Linked DNA regions of Homo sapiens. Changing the gene in region 2 together with the main gene of any one other region gives a genetic interaction. Each region holds a gene or a part of one and is shown on either strand. Other genes may lie near its edges.

The links. A genetic interaction does not mean that the proteins touch.
Region 1: of KDM5B (region 2) and TFAP2C, changing one enhances a phenotype caused by changing the other (phenotypic enhancement), as found in Homo sapiens cells (one study listed by BioGRID).

Annotation. Positions count from the first base shown.
Region 1 is NC_000020.11:56,624,698-56,632,305, reverse strand, and holds the start of TFAP2C (transcription factor AP-2 gamma), read right to left. Parts: upstream 3,001-7,608; 5' UTR 2,762-3,000; coding exon 2,714-2,761; intron 1,102-2,713; coding exon 616-1,101; intron 502-615; coding exon 450-501; intron 1-449. UniProt on the Homo sapiens protein: Sequence-specific DNA-binding transcription factor that interacts with cellular enhancer elements to regulate transcription of selected genes, and which plays a key role in early embryonic development.
Region 2 is NC_000001.11:202,805,409-202,813,260, reverse strand, and holds the start of KDM5B (lysine-specific demethylase 5B), read left to right. Parts: upstream 1-4,839; 5' UTR 4,840-4,955; coding exon 4,956-5,159; intron 5,160-5,251; exon of another isoform or gene 5,252-5,298; intron 5,299-5,961; exon of another isoform or gene 5,962-6,284; intron 6,285-7,852. Other genes in the region: uncharacterized protein LOC124904583, read left to right, coding at 1,702-2,226. UniProt on the Homo sapiens protein: Histone demethylase that demethylates 'Lys-4' of histone H3, thereby playing a central role in histone code. Does not demethylate histone H3 'Lys-9' or H3 'Lys-27'. Demethylates trimethylated, dimethylated and monomethylated H3 'Lys-4'.

The DNA.
Region 1 (7,608 bases), on a different chromosome or scaffold from region 2:
TTGCAGGTCAGAATTAAGGAGGTTTTCCATACACGTGTTTGAAATCAAAAATAAAATCACAACTTATTCAACAATTAAAATTGTTACAGAACCAACCACTCAACGAAGGTGTGCCTGTGACTTTTTTCTTGTTGTTTTTCAAGTTAAATCAGTGTTCACTCGCTCTGGAAGACTTTCTCTCACATTGTGAAACACCCACTGGAATTCATGGACATTTTTCCAAGAAAAAAAACTAGGCAGTAACAACTCCGGAGATGAAGAGACAGCTCCTAGGAGGTCGGAGGGAAATCCCTTTCTGTCACTCCTAAAATCTAGCTTCCATGAATCCCTTTCAGTCCCTTCTACCACAAATGTCCCACGCTGGCCACCAAATACCCCCAACCTTGCCAGTCAACTTCACAAGCCCAGATCGTGTGACCAGAGTTAGACGATGCCACCTTGCTATTTACCTTTGCGAATGACTGTCTGATCGTGCAGCAACAGGTGCTGGTCGTCGACATTCTGGGGGAGAGAGGACAAAATTCCCTTAAGTTCGGGGGAGCCTAGAGGAGTGCGGGGTGGGGGCAGAAGGCCGTAGGGTGAACAGGTCCGGTCAGGAGCCGCAGCGCCGCTCACCTGCACCTCGTCCATCTGGTGAGGCATGTCGTGGAGCCCCAGGTTCTCGGCCAGGCCCGCGGCATCCAGGGCGTGTGCGTGGGGCAGCAGCAGGTCGGAGCGGCGGTAGGCATCCCTGCGGGCGCTCACCGCGCCCGCCTCCAGCCCGGAGAGGTGGGGCAGTAGGCCGGCCGGGCGCCCGTGGTGCGAGGGCAGCCCCGCTCCCTCCTGGCTCTGGCGGCCGGGCCAGGCCTGCTGCTGGCTGCCTGTGGGCGCCGGCTGGTGCAGGGGGTTGATGGCGGCGGCGTACGCTTCCCCCAGATGCGAGTAGGGGTCGGCCGACTGGGAGTAGGCCAGCTGCTGGTAGGGAGGGGGAAAGTAGGGTGGCGGCTGATATTCGGCGACTCCAGTGTGGGAGAGGGGTGGCGCGGGGCTGTAGAGGTGCTGCCCGGCGGAGGAGAGGTGGGGGACCCGCGGATTCCCATTGCTGCTCCCGTCGTGGCGATCCTGGAGGGAAAAAAAAAAACAGGAGACCCCGTTAGTGCGAAACCCCGCTACTGCGAACTGGCCGGCATCGCCGGGCTACGCAGAGGGCCCCGGGGGACCAACCGCACCCCGCCCGGCGGGGCTTGCCCAGGGTCGGAAGGTACCCGGGGGCAATGCGCCCCGAGGATTTCGTTGTAAGCAAAGAGTGCGGGGAGGGAGGAGAGTCTGGTGAAAGACCTGGGGGAACGAGTTCTCAAAGCCCGGCGGCGAAGGTCTAGGCGCTGCTCCCAAGCCCGAGGCGCTTGGAGGCGCCAAGTCCGAACCCTGGGTCTTGGGCCAGAAAAGTCCGTGGCCGGAGCCCGGGGCGAAGGAGCCAGAGCCCGGGGCGAAGGAGCCGGACGCCCGGTGCAGAGCTATCTCGTGGAGCCCGCCCATGACGCAGGGACTGCTGGAGGTGGCAGCGCGGCAGGCGCGGATAGAGTGCGCGGCGCGGGAAATGCGCACCTCCCCCGCCCCCGGGACCCTCCCTTCCACGCCCTCGGGACAAAGACCTCCGAGCGGGCGGCGCTCGGAAAGCAGGGCCCGCCACCCTGCGCCGCCCTGGGAAGTGAAGAGGGAGCGCGCGCACAGGGCGGCCCTCCCTGCTGGCCGGGCCCAGCCGAGGGGAGTAATAAGTGGGGGCGCCCTGCACTGCCAAGGGCAGTGTTCTCGCACGTCGGGGCGCAGAGGGGGCATGAAGAACCCTGGAAATTGGGCAGCCTTGCCCGCGCACGTTCCCTCGCCCCTGGGCGGCCCGACTCAGTTTCTAAAGGATGCGTCCCCATCTGCCCAGGGGTCTCGGGGCGCCGGGAACCTGGAGGAACATGGCGCTGTCGCCTCCTGGCGGAAGCGCCCGGGCCTGCGGGCAGGGGCAGCCCTCCAGGGCCCGGAGGCGCAGTGAACTCCCGCGAGTCCGTAGCCCGAGCTCCGCGCTCCCGGCGCCCCTGAGCTCGCCTAGCGCTGCCTGCGTCTTCTTCCTCTTCCCGCTCGCCGCCTCCTTCTTCCCTCCCACTCTCCGAAACTCTAGCTCAACCTGTCCGACAGGCTGGAGCACTCGCGAGCTCTTACGGCCCCATCTGGCCTCGGGCACCCCCACCACCACTCCCCAGCCCCCACTTCTTTTGAAAGCCAAACTTCGGTTGTTTTCGTGCTTCCCCGAGGAGGTAGCGGGGCAGGTGACAAGCCGGCCTTGGAGGAGTGTCCGCCAAGGTGTCGCTAGCAGGTAGCCTCATCTGACCCCTTTGGACAGAGACTTCGTGCGTAAAAGCCACGTCTGAGGGTTGCAGACGGGGCACTTTTCCGAGAAAACGGGAAGCAGGGCTGTTTGCCGCTTAGGAAAGCGCCCGGTAAGCTGTGTGGGTGGGATTTGCCATTCTCTTTCCAGGCCTCGTTCCCGAGGGGAGGCTATTTAGGAAAAGGCCCTATACAGGAAAGGGGCCCCGCAGAAATGGACTAAGGGGTGTCCGGAGAAGTGGATCCCGTCCCACCGAGAGGCCAGGGCTCCTATGCCCTCGTCCCCGACCTCGGTCCAGTGGCCCCTGCCTCCCGGACTGTCCTCGGCGGGGCGGGGCTGCACCCCGGAGCCCCAGCTCACCTCGCAGTCCTCTTCGTACTTGACATTATCGGTTATTTTCCACAACATGGCGTCCGGCGTCCCCCAAAACAGTCGCCAGTTAAATCCAGGATCCCCCCAGCCCCCAAGCGGTAAATCCAAAATCGGGGTCACGGTGACCAGGCGTCTGCCGCCGCCCCCGCCGCGCGCGGGCCTTGCTGTCCGGGTCACTGGACACGCATCGGCGGCTCTGCGAGCGTAGATGCTGCCGCCGCGAGTGTCAAGACCGCTCCGCGGACGGGGAAAGCCGCGCCCGAACAGTGTGTCCTGGCGATAGCCGGGGGACCCGAGCGCCTTAATGAGAAGGAAATTATCATAACTCCTCCCCGGGGGCCGGCGCGGAGGCCCAGGCGCCGGGCGGGGCGGCCCCCAGCCAGTCCCAGCCTAGCTCCGCCCCGCACCCGGGCCTGGCGCAGCGCCGAGCCCCACGCTGTGAGGGACGAAGCGCGGAGTCAGTGGGCGGTGCCTCGTTGACAGCCGAAGACCTGCGAGGCCTGGGTCCCCCGACGCGCCTTCCTTCTGTCACCTCCACCGTAAACACACCTGAGATTGGCAGAGCTGGGGGAAGGGATCCAAATACTGAAACCCACCCCTCTTTCGCCTAAACGGCCTTCACTCGTTCCTCCAAAAGACGGATGTCACCTGGAGTTAAGAAACTGCGCATTTGGGGAGCGACTCAACAACCGGGGTCTCCTCATCTCCTAAAAACACATCCCATCCCACCTACACCCCACTGAGGCTTAAGGTCTGAGCTGGGATCATGCAGCTGGAGCCCCAGTGCGCCAGAGACGCCCAGTTCCCTCCGTGGGCACAGCGCGGTCCCGGCCCCCGGGCGGGAGGAGAGAGGAAGGGACTCCTGGGGAGTCTGCCCCAAGGGCCGCAGAGGCAGCAGACGGTCCTACCCGCCCAGGAGTTGCGGACAGCGGCGTCTCGCCGCTGTCGCCCGAAGTGGCATCTCCCGCGGCTGGCTGAGGCCAGGGGGAACCCGCGCGCACTGGACCAGCCCAGCGGCCCGGCCCTGCCCTGCCCTGCGGAACGCCGGCTCTGCAGCTGCCTCTGGCGGGCCGGTCACTCAGAAGCCTCTACTCGCCCTGGGAAAGAAGCGCCGGGCAGGAATAAAACCCGAGCGCCACGGGTAAGGTGAGGGTGAGGAGGTGCAGGAAGTTGGGAGAGAGCCTGCAGAGAGCTCTCGACTGGAGAGGTAGACACCCAGGTCCCACATGTTTAGACAGAAAACGAAACTTCCTTCCACACAAACGCTGCTTCCCTCTCCCCTTCGGTACTTGCCACCCAAACTTGAAAGCAAAGTGCAATACTAATTTTTAAAATTTAAACTAACGAAATTCTTTGGCCCAGTTATTATGCAGCAATTGACTTTCATTGTAAGGGGAACATCGCTAATTCTCGAGGGCGTATTTGTTGGGACGCCCCAACTGGCTCCCTGGGCTGGATTTAAACATTCTGTGGGGATTAGAGGACAAGACTATTTCTATTTGATACTGAATACGATTTTGCAATAATCAATGCCTATCAGTACGGTGTCCGCACCTGCAGTAGACATGACTCTCCCATCCACGGAATGGCGGCATCCACTGCCTCGCTGTTCCTTCTCGGGTTCGTTTGAACTTTAGCATTTATTTAGACCCAGGTGGGCCTAAAAGAAAATAATAATAATAGGCGTCCTCCAAGGGAAACTTTCCCCCGGCCTTAGACAGCAGCCAAATCCCAGGTGATTTTCCGACCGGACGCGGGAACAAAATCTGGAAGTTGAAACCACTGAGACTTTTCGGCCAAGCATATCTGCAGGGCTTTGCACTAAGGAGAACAGTGCATAAAAAGACACACAGGACCCTGACACTTCGGTCCCAAAACAGGCTTCTGGGGGTAAAATAAGTTACCGCAGAAGCAGCGCTCCTGGTATTAGCGGCGGGGGAGGGGGACACCTGCCAGAAGCAGAAATTAGACCCAGGCCCGCAGGCACTCCAGAGCACAGGTCCAGGAAGATGGGTCCTAGACTCGCCAGAGGTGCGGCGCCTCTTTCGGGCGCCTGGGACTCCCTGACGGGTGCCGCTGGGCTGTCCGACATTCTGGGCCTTCTAGCCCTCGGTTTTATTCTCTGACCCGGCCTGAGGTGCAGCTTGAACAAGCTGTCTTGTCTGTGCTGGCAAGTTTACCTCCTGCACGCTGGGGCCCGGAATGGGCAAGAAGGTGCTCATCCCCCATCCCAGGCCCTGGCTCTCCTTTCCCACAGCAACACTAGCCAAAGCTGCCCGGAGGAACCGATATGCCTCCCCGCCTGGGAGCGTCTACGCAGGAGGCGAAGGGAGCCGATGGGCACTGAGGGCTCGCGCAGCACCGTGCCGTGGGCCCAAAGGACCCAGAGGATCCGGAACCGCTTGGCAAAGGCCATTCATTCCCAAGGAGCTTCCCTGGACCCCGGCGCTGCCCTCTTTCCAATGGGTAAGCGTTCGAACTGGAGCGCAACCTCCGCGCCCTCTGTACGGAAGGCAGCTAGAACAAATCCTCTGTCTTCTCGGCACGGGAGACCCTTCCCCAATACGCACATTCTCGGCTTCTGGGCCGGCACCCAGGCACGCGCGCGCCCTTGTGAGGAAGCCTCAACCCTTCCTTGACTTCAACTTTTCTGCTCAGCAGAGCCGGGAACCGAAGGCTCCAGCATCCAAGACAGCCTCCCTCCAACGTCCCCGCCCCTTGCCCACGTGAAGACGCGGACTGCGTGGCCGCGCTCAAGACAGCCGGCACCGGCAGAAGGGGACCCCTCTGGAACCCCGGAGGCCTCGCAGCCGCCTGGAGAAGAGGATGGAAGGTTGTCGGGGGTTCCCCTCTACCGCCCCCTAGGGAGCCTAAACTCACTTACTCCCTGGAAGCCCTGGACCCACGCCCCTATGAAACCGCAAACCAGGCCTCTGCAACAGCGGGAGCGCCCCAACAGCGCGCCACTTCCAAAGAGGCGCGAGGTGGTGCCTTTGGAAACAGGGCTCCCGGCCCCAGGCCTGAGTCATCCGCCACCCCTGCCCCCACCCCAGACGGAAGAAGGCGGCCAGGCGGGTAGAGCAAGATTCGGGCAGATCTGCGACTCCTCTTCCCGCCCCAGGGAGGGGACTCCCGAGCAGAAGATGGAGGCCCCCGAGCGCTTTCGCAGACTCCGCGCCACGCGCCGGACGTTTGTCCCGCCTCTCGGGACAACGTGAGCGCCGGTAGGGACCTCAGTAAGTGGCAGACCCGCCAGGATCAAGCAAGGTGGAAAGGCCGGGGCCTGCGGCAAACCCAGGAGGAGGGGGCATTCACGCCCGCCACCCTCCCTTCGCGGCACTGGCACCCACTGGACCGACACTGGCGTCAAAGGGCACCCTGAAGTATCTATGTCCAGTAAGGGCATGCCCTGGGGCACCACAGACATCAAGTCACAGCCACTCCAAAATAATTACAAAAATGATTATCGTAAATAACAGATTGCTTTAATAGGGCGCGAAGCGGCCGCCGCATACAGACGCCTCTGGTCTCAGTCCCACCAGATTCAGTTCACTGCTCGCTTCTTTGCGCTCCGCGTCAGGCCGCATGCTCTTCGTTTAGAACCTTTTGAGCCTTAACTCTTCCTCTCAAACAACTCCTTTTTTCAAACAGGCAAAGTGAGGCGAGGAGCTGAGGGGCTCACAGGTTCCCAAGCTTCCGAGGAGGGCCCGGGTCCACGTCAGTCCCGGCCCGCCAAACGAGACTTCGTGGGCACAGTCTCTAACCTGACAACCACCTGTCCCATTTCACAGCAGGCAAAAGTGAATTTTTAGTCGCCCAACTACCTGAAAGCCACAAAGGTGCCTAGGGTTGAAGGCCACTTTCCTAGCGGTTCTACTAGGGAGCCCGTTAGAGACATGCCTGACTCTCCCCCTGCCCTGCCCCGGGGGGGACCCCCGCCCGCCGGAGGCCTCACACGCTTGGCCGTGGGATGGTAGACTCCTGTCACCTCTCCACTAACATCCCGGAGCCCATCCGTACGCACCCTAACCGCTCGGAGCGCAGGCCCGAGGACTAAGGCGGTAGCCTCGTGTCCCCTGAGGCCTTCTCCGCTCCGTGTTCTGGGTCGCCATACACTTCCCGGCTAAGCCCGGCGCCTTTAACTCAGAACTTGGTCGCCTCCAGGCGTGGAGCAGGCCACTGTTGCCAGACGCTGCGCGGACCCGTCTTCCTGCGCCAGTACTGGGCGACAGGCAGCCCGGGCAGCACCCAGGAGCCACCCTGCACGGCCCCAGGCGCCCGTCCCACCCAGCGCCACCCCTCGCCCTTCGCAGCGAGTCCTCCCGCAGCCTCTCCTCTCTGCTAGCCCCCGGGGTCGCACCTGCCCTCCACACAGACACCTCTTTTCTCACCCGTAGGAACTGGAAGCTCATGGTGCCAGCTCTCCAACCCTCTGTGAGTTGAGGAGTTTAAGAGTAGGAGAGACGTAGAAAAAGAGTTCCCCGAGGGCCGAGTCGTGTGCGGTAAACACACGCTTCCAGCGTTTATTTAATTAACGGGAGGGGGAGGGGAAGGGGGGAAATTCACAGCCAAAACGAGCTATCGCGATTGGAAGACTGGCAGGAAAGGTCCTGGTTACTCCTCCCCTGCCCTCCTCCCCTTGGAAACTATAAACTCTGCATTTGAAAAGGGTATACCCTAGGGTTTTAAATTATCTTTACATATGTATATGACAAGCGGTACGTAGGACTTCTTCAGTCAGAAATTATTTTAAATGTAGCCTACCTCTTACTGGCAAGGGATTTTTTTTTTTAGTTGGTTAGTTTCTAAGACCAAAAGTATTAACATTTCTGGGAATTCTCAGCCTTCATGTCACATCACAGGTTTCCGGGTTCAGCTGAAAT
Region 2 (7,852 bases):
AATTTCTCCATCTGAAAAATGGTAACACTAATACCACTCATTTCACAGGGCTGATGTTCTATGATTTGCTCCCGGCTAATGGCCTTGTCTTATTCATGTTATTACAGTATTTCTAGTGGTTCCCCTATCCCCGCTTCCTGCCAGGAAAGAGGAAAAAGGGAATTCACCTGTAGCATTTAGTGTGTCAGACGCTGTGCTGGGCACTCAGCATGATTTGGTTGAACATGGAATTCCAAATTCCCAGTTTCAACTGGGAATTTACAGTGGTGGTCTGTAAAGTGCTGACACAGTGTTGCAGCAGTTTTCATTCTATTGTTAAGACTTTCATCCAAGATGCAGGCAATTCCAAACATTCCAGCTATCCAAGGCCATTGAGCATGCTGCCAGGGGCCCCTCAGCCCAGAGACCCAAATTAGGGGTGCTGGTGGTGCCACTGCGGGATGAACAGGGAACATGAGTTTCCCTCTAATCCTCACAGCTTCTCTAAGCAGCTCACAGGATTGCTCCTTGGGAGTCCAGGGCTTCTCAAGTTGCCCAACTGGAATGGGAAGAAACACGCCCTGAAGCCCTGGTGTGGCTAACTTTGCCCCTCCCAATCCCCGTGGGCAGGGCTGGCAGCACCGTGGGAATGTTCCACTTGTCAGCGCCTGACCCCCACAAGGGTCTAGCCCTTTGAGCCCCACACCCAGGTAAACCAAAGCCCAGGACTGAGGGTGCAGTTACCCTGGATCTCAGTTGGGCTGAGTCATCAGAGAGGGATTCCAGGACAGGAGAGGAAGAGCAGATGGGAGGAGGAAGAGGTATTTATTAGTTACCAGGTGGCTCCCAGGACCCAGACCCAGCTTCCCAAGAACAGAAACCCAGAAATGAGCGCCTGGTCAAGGTGTAAGCTGTTCCCCAAGGGCAGCCCCGACAGCTGGGGCTAAAGCAGAACAGTGAGCACAGAAGTCCACCATAAGGGACCAGCTCAGCAGTAGACGATAGCATAGGAGGGGTTGCTGGTTCCCGGGAATTAAGCAGGGCAGGGAATGGGGGAGGATGGGTTTATCTCACCTGTGGTGCCCACCCATTGTGGAGGCTCCCTCAACACCGTTCTGAGCCTCCTTCCTGCTTCATGTGGTCAACCAGATTCTTCTTTGTCCAGCCCAAAGCTCCATCCTCAGCCAATGGTAGCCACAGAAACTCAAGGCCATTTACCCTCCCTTTCAACAAATATTTGTGGAGCGTGTGCCACGTGCCTGGTGCCAAGGAGAGAGACATTACTTCTTCCCTCTAGAGGCTTACAATCTGGCAGGAGAGGAATATGTATGGGGAGAGTGCAGGGACACCGCGGAAAAAAGACAAATACTGAGTTATAAGTGTTGTAATAGGGGGTAGTAACAAGACGTTGTAGGACTACACAAAATAAAACAAGGAGGCCAAATCGCAAGCGTTTGTGGGTTTCACAGGGGACATCTGACAGCAAACATTCCAGGGCACCGAGAGATGGTGAGGAGAGATGATGGCATTGAATTGGAGAGATGAGCTGAGATGGACTGCGCAGAGGACGAGGGAAAGCCGGTGCACTGGAGACTGGGGGAGACGAGAGGATCCACCGGGTTGGGAGGGGAAGGGTGGTGGTAGAAGCACGAGCAAGGCAGAGACCGGAGGCCAGGGCGGAAGGGAGGCTCACGGACACCTGGAGCCCTGAAAAGTTGTCAGAGGCGGCGAGGGGGTGGGGAGCGGACCCTACACGTGCGCTACGTGCTGCGCCGGCCGCTGGGGAGCCCGGTCTGCCCCCCTCATCCCAGAACCCGGTCCCAGGGCAGTTGCACGGCGCCCAGGGGGAGGGGAGGGAGGAAGTCCCCCCAAGTTTGCAACCCGGCAGCGTGGTCTTCGCAACGCGGTTACCGGAAGGAACGCGAGGAGCGCCTCATCACCAGGCGGGTGTATCTAGGGGCGAAGGCTGCAGATCTGGGGCGCAGGCTGGAAAGTGGGGTGCAGCCGGTTGACGTGAGGTCTGGGAGTTGGATGGACCGAATGAGGATGGAGACACCTAGGGATGTGTCCGAAGGATCTGGCGCTGCACAAATGAGGGCGGTTTGGGGGACGGAGGCCCGGGCGGGGGCGGAGTGTTGTCCAAGAGTAAGGAGGGGGTTCCTGGAGACGTGGCACTCGGAGCGGGGCTGGGTTCCGCTCCGGCCGCCTGGGCTGCAGCTCCGCTATGGCCTAGGAACCCGAACCTGACCCCGCCTAGGCCTCGCACCCAGCCCTCTGGGAGCTCCGGCCCCGGCACCTCCAGGCTGGGGTTGCCCAGGTCCGGCCTCTGGGGCGTCCAGCCGGCCCTAGACGAGACAATGCGGCCCGGGCCCCGCCCCCGGAGGATGACGCGCCCGGCTGCCGGCCAGTCAGCGCCCGTGGCTAGGCTCTTTAAAAAAAGAAGGGCCGGCGCGGTGTGGCTGTCAGCTGGGAGGGATCCCTCCGCCCATGTAAACATCATAAAGGGCAAGGGGAGCGTCTGTTGTGGGCGGGGGAGCGGCTGCCTTCCCGGAGAGTCCTCTCGGTCCCTAGGTTCCCCTCAAGACGCCGGCAACCGCCCCGTCCCTTAACGTCACACCGGGTCTGCTGGGAGCCAAACAGCTGCGGCCTGATCTGGGAGCGATAGAATCTCATCACTTAGGGTCACTACCGGAAATGGAGGAAGCCGGACTGGGAGACCTTGAGAGTTGGGAGCGAGAGGGAATCGTAGGACGCAGCTGAGAATTGGGAAAGATTTTCTTAGGCTTGTTCTTCCTGTCCATCTCAGTTAAATAATAATCATAACTCATGTAAGTCTAGAATTTGTCTCAAAGTTATGCCTACCTGGCTCGTAGGATGCCAACGTTAGGAGTGAAAATAGTCAACGCTCTCCCGAGAGAGCACATGACACTACATGAGCTTCATCAAGACCCTCGGAGGCCCAGAATGCGCACCAAAGAGCCATCGACGATAATTCTTCTACCCAACTTTTATTTAGTATTATTAAATATTCAGTAAAGTTAAAAGAAATTTGCATCAAATTCCTCTATACCCACTACCTAGATTCTATTATAACTTGCCACATCGCATATCTATCTTGCACTGATAATTCTTTTAATAGTGTATTAGCTGTCCCCTGGGCTTGACTCTCCATTGCAGTAGGGAGCAGGAAAAGACTCCAGGTCCCAAAGCCCTGGAGAGCTAAGAAAAGGAATACGTTCTCCCAGGACCACTGTGAACTCTTTCCTGGGCCCGGTACCTCTGGGAAAAATTTGTTGAAGGGAAGGCGGTTTTCTTCTCCCCCCACGCCCATCCCCCCTTTTAATTGAAGACTTCTTAAGCATAAGAGATTTCCTTCCACTAGGTGAATCTGAAAGCGAACTAAGATCTTGACAAACATTCCTTGCATACGTTTGGCAGCTTTCTGGATGAAAGAGGTCATTTCAATGTTGACGTTCTACTTTTTGAGCTTCCTCCTTTTTTCTGAGGCTGCTGGACACTACCCCCCCACCCCCGTCCCCCGTCTCCCGCCAAAAGAAAAAAGGCGCCTCAAAAGTGTTCGTATCTCTTAAAGTTCGTTAACCTCTTTGCCTCCGTTGCCTGCTCTGCAAAATGAGGATAATATCGTACCTACTCAATATGGTGGTTGTGAAGACTCAGTGAGCTAATACATGCAGAGCGTTTAGAGCAGTGCTTTACACACAGTAGCATTAAATAGCGGCTATCACCCATAAGCACATAACTCCCAGATTTATATCTCCAATTCTGATCTCGCCCCTTCAGATTTATACCCTTCAGTCTGTTGAAGGATACCCCGTTGTGTATTTCTACCTGTATGTACCAGAGACACCTCAAATTCAAAATGTCCAGAAATGAACACAGTATCTTCTTCCCTTGAGTAACTCGCCTTCTGTATATAATTGGGGTGAATGTTCCAGCAATGCCAACGGGCTAGCATCTACTCAGGCAGGTACGCCAGACATCTGAATCTTAATACCTCGTCGTCCCCCCTCAATCTGTCACTATGTCCTAATTTTATTTCCTACCTTTGCATCCCTTCCTCATAATTATCAGCACCACTGCCTTAATTTAGATCCTATCATTCCTTGTCTGGATTATTTCAAGTCTTTCGCCCCTCTCAAGTCTGACCTCGTCATAGACTGTTTGTGGATGATTATTTTCCCTGCAACATCTCCACCTCCCAATAGTCTCCATCACTTATTAGCCATGTGAATTATGGCAAATTGCTTAACCTACCTATGCCTCACTTTCCTTATTGTAAAGTGGAAATAAGAGTACCTATCTCATAGGGTTGTGTGATTAATCATGCGATGCAATTAGAACAGTGCCTAGGATATGAAAGTGCCCCAAAATGTTACGTTATTATTATTATTACTACTATTGCCTTCTCATGAACATGCTATGTGTATGTTCAAGCTGTTATCTCTACTGGAAAATCCTTCTCCGTTTCCAATACTCTTTCCAAAACCCCCTCCTGGGTTTTACTGCACCTACCATTGTGTACTGACGTGATTGAATGATTGGCTTATGGGACTGATCCTTTCTACCAGACTTAACTTCTTCAGGGCAGGAACTCTGATACATAGTAAATGGTCAATAAAAGTTGGCTCAACTGAAACCCTAAGGATAAACTCCATCCACAGCGGAAGGCGCGGCCCCGCCCGATTCGGGGGCGGGGCGGGGAGCCGCGCGCGGAGGGTGGGTCGATGGGGGTGGGGTGGGACTCTTTTTCCTCGCCGTGGCGGCGGAGGCGCACGGCGTGGGCTTGCGGCGAGACGTCGTCGTCGGAGGCTGAAAAAGCCCAAGGTGCTGCCGTTGCCCGTACAACTCGGACTTGCTGTTGCTCGAGCCGCGTCTGCACGGGTCTCGGACCGAGCGGAGCTCGCAGCCTCGGTCCCGGAGCCCACCTTCGCCTCGCCCTTGCCCAGCCTGCGGTGATGGAGGCGGCCACCACACTGCACCCAGGCCCGCGCCCGGCGCTGCCCCTCGGGGGCCCGGGCCCGCTGGGCGAGTTCCTGCCTCCACCCGAGTGCCCGGTCTTCGAACCCAGCTGGGAAGAGTTCGCGGACCCCTTCGCTTTCATCCACAAGATCCGGCCCATAGCCGAGCAGACTGGCATCTGTAAGGTGCGGCCGCCGCCGGTGAGTCACGCCAGCACCCCGGATCCAGCTCGTGGCTGGGGGAGGGAGCGGGGACGCGCGGGTCCGGGGAGGCCCGAGGCGCGGGGGGCGGGGAGCCGGTCGCCCCGCCGGCCTCGTCAAGTTTGGGGCTGCCTAGAAGGTCGGAGTTGAGGCCGGGGGAGGAAGACGGGGGCTTCTCCAGGGTGGGAGATGAGGAGCGTGGGAGAACCGGGGGCTTCGGCGGTGCCATGGGAGGGCCGGGTCGCCGCGGGGCTCGGGCGGCCGGGTGCGGAGGTTCGGGTTCGGTTCCGGATGGAGTGATGGCAGGAGCCGGGGGTGGTCGCGGGGGAGTTTCCTCACGGAGCCTGGCGGAGGCGCGGGCTGGAGGGAGGACTGTGGGCCCGGCGAGGCTCGGCAGGCTGGTCCTCGCCTCCGCTCCCGGGGTGCGGGGGTGTGTGATGGGGTGGGGTGGGGGTGGGGGACTTGCGAGTTGTCGTGCGAGGAGGAAAGTTTTCAATATGGCGGCGGGAGCCCCTGGTCCTTTGTGTGGTGGCGGCGTCGGCCCGGAGCGGCCCTCACCTGGGCGCCCCACCCTCCAGACCAGGGCACCCCTCCACCGCCTGGTCCCCGGGCCTCCAGGTGTCCCCCGGGCCGGGGTCAAGAAGGGGGCGGCCAGCGCTGGCTGGGGGCGGGGAGGAGCCGCGGGTCCAGCCCCGGAGCGGATGTTTGTGGGGGGCGTTAGTGTCTGGGGGACACTTTTGGGGCGGCGGGGGCAGGACGGGCGGCGGTGGGCCCCGATGCCCGCCCGCGCTCCCGAACGCGCACACTCCCGGCTTCTTCTGGCTCAGCCGCTCGGCTCCCCGGGGAGGCCTGGGCTGTGCTGGTGGGGATGGGGTCCGGGCGAGGCCGTGTTTGTAGGGGAACGTCAGACGGAGAGACCTCCGAAGATTTCGTGCTCGTTTCCCCCGGCCCTCAGGCTCCGGGCACTGAAAGGCAGTCACCCACCGCAGCCCTTCCAGCCCTGTCTACAGCGCCTCGGGCCTGGGGGCAGTGAGTGAGGGGTGGGTGTTGCTGAAACCATCCGTAACGGCTCCAACGTTCGCTGAGGAGAGCCCGGCCAACTCCTTCCTCCGTGGCCGGAACTGGGTGCGCTCCTACACCCCTGTTTTTTTTGCCCACCTTTCGGGAGGGTCTGAGTCCGAGTTGGCCTAAGCGGCGGTTGGACGGGCTGGGACCGTTGGGAAGCGGGTTTAACTGCCTTTCCTGCTGTTTAAGAATCTTCTCCCCACTCTCTTCCCCCACCCCCACTTCTAAGTAGAGGAAGACCCCTTCCCACCCCTTTCTCCCTTAAGCTTGCTTTTTGTAATGACATTTTGAGTTGTAGGGATTCTGTTTGTAATCGTTATGTTTTGGAAAGCTGTTTTCAGGGAGATCCCTGAAAATAAGGCTTCTTAACCCTTCCCTGCCCCAAATTAAAACACGGACACCTACTTTAGTTTTTCTTAAGCAAGTTTGAAAATGGAGATGAAATACATGCTTCAGAAAATAACTGGCCAGCGAATATGAGGGAAATGTTTGAAAATAGATCCATTTCTTACAGCGAAGTGGGCAAGGTTGATTCTTGCTGCTTAAGGGAAGTACGTTTCTCTTAGTGCAAAGAGGCCTGCAGAAGTTATAACAGGGCTGGTTAGAGCCAAGGTTTTAATTCTTGAATAATAGGTCATGTTTCACACTGTAGTAATGTAGCTTCATGTCACATGCTAGGAAGGGTGAATATGAATATTGCACATTTGCATAATGGGATTTTATTCAGAAATTGGGTAACTTGACTAAGTTCTTAGTAACCAAAACGTGGGGAGTCAGGTTCCTGGGAGGTGTCCTCCATGTTGGTATTGTGGTATACCAGGGCTGGGGTAAATCCTTTATCTTGTTTTCTTGTTCTTTGCCTTTTAGAGGGCCCTTTTTCTGAAAAGATAGTGTTGCTCTGGTTAGGCTTGGCTACCCATTTCCTCATCTTGGCTAGAATATTAATGGTAATCTTTGCAAAATGTGTGATCGAATTGCCTTTTTCTCACTCTGAATGTCAGACAGACATGATGGCCACCATTTTGTATTGAGAGTGCTACATAGTACAGCCTGAGGAAAGGGGTTAAAGAGGCACCAATAATCTACAAATACAACCAGTACTCTGTTTGGAGACCTCCTTTGTGTGGAGGGGACTTGCTTCCTCCTTTGTTTAACAAACTCCTTTGCCAAATGGAAAGAGTTTGAGAGTATTTGTTGTTGATATAACCACAAAAAGGGAAATCTTTCCAGAAGTTGTAGCTCTTGAAGAGGGGTCTTGTTGGAACAAAGGCTTCTTAAGAGATGTAAACAGTCTTTGTTTTAGAAACTGTTTTGTTTTTGGGAAAGCTAACTGTGAACAAGTGGTTTCATATAGTTGATATATAGCAACAAAAAAACCCTTCAAGAAGTGTGAAATATTTTCCATGGTGATATATATAATGTCTGTATTTCTGGATGATTTTTGTTCACCGAGTTTTTGGAACACAAATGGTTATATTAGAAGGGGAATTGGAACTATTGGTATTTTACTTGTTAGAAGGTAAGGAGAAGTATAAAACATTTCTGTCTCCTTTTGTTCTTACCTTTGTATCTTTACCAATGGTACTTAATATAGTTTCAGTTTATAGCTGCTTTCTCAGTGAGACTCC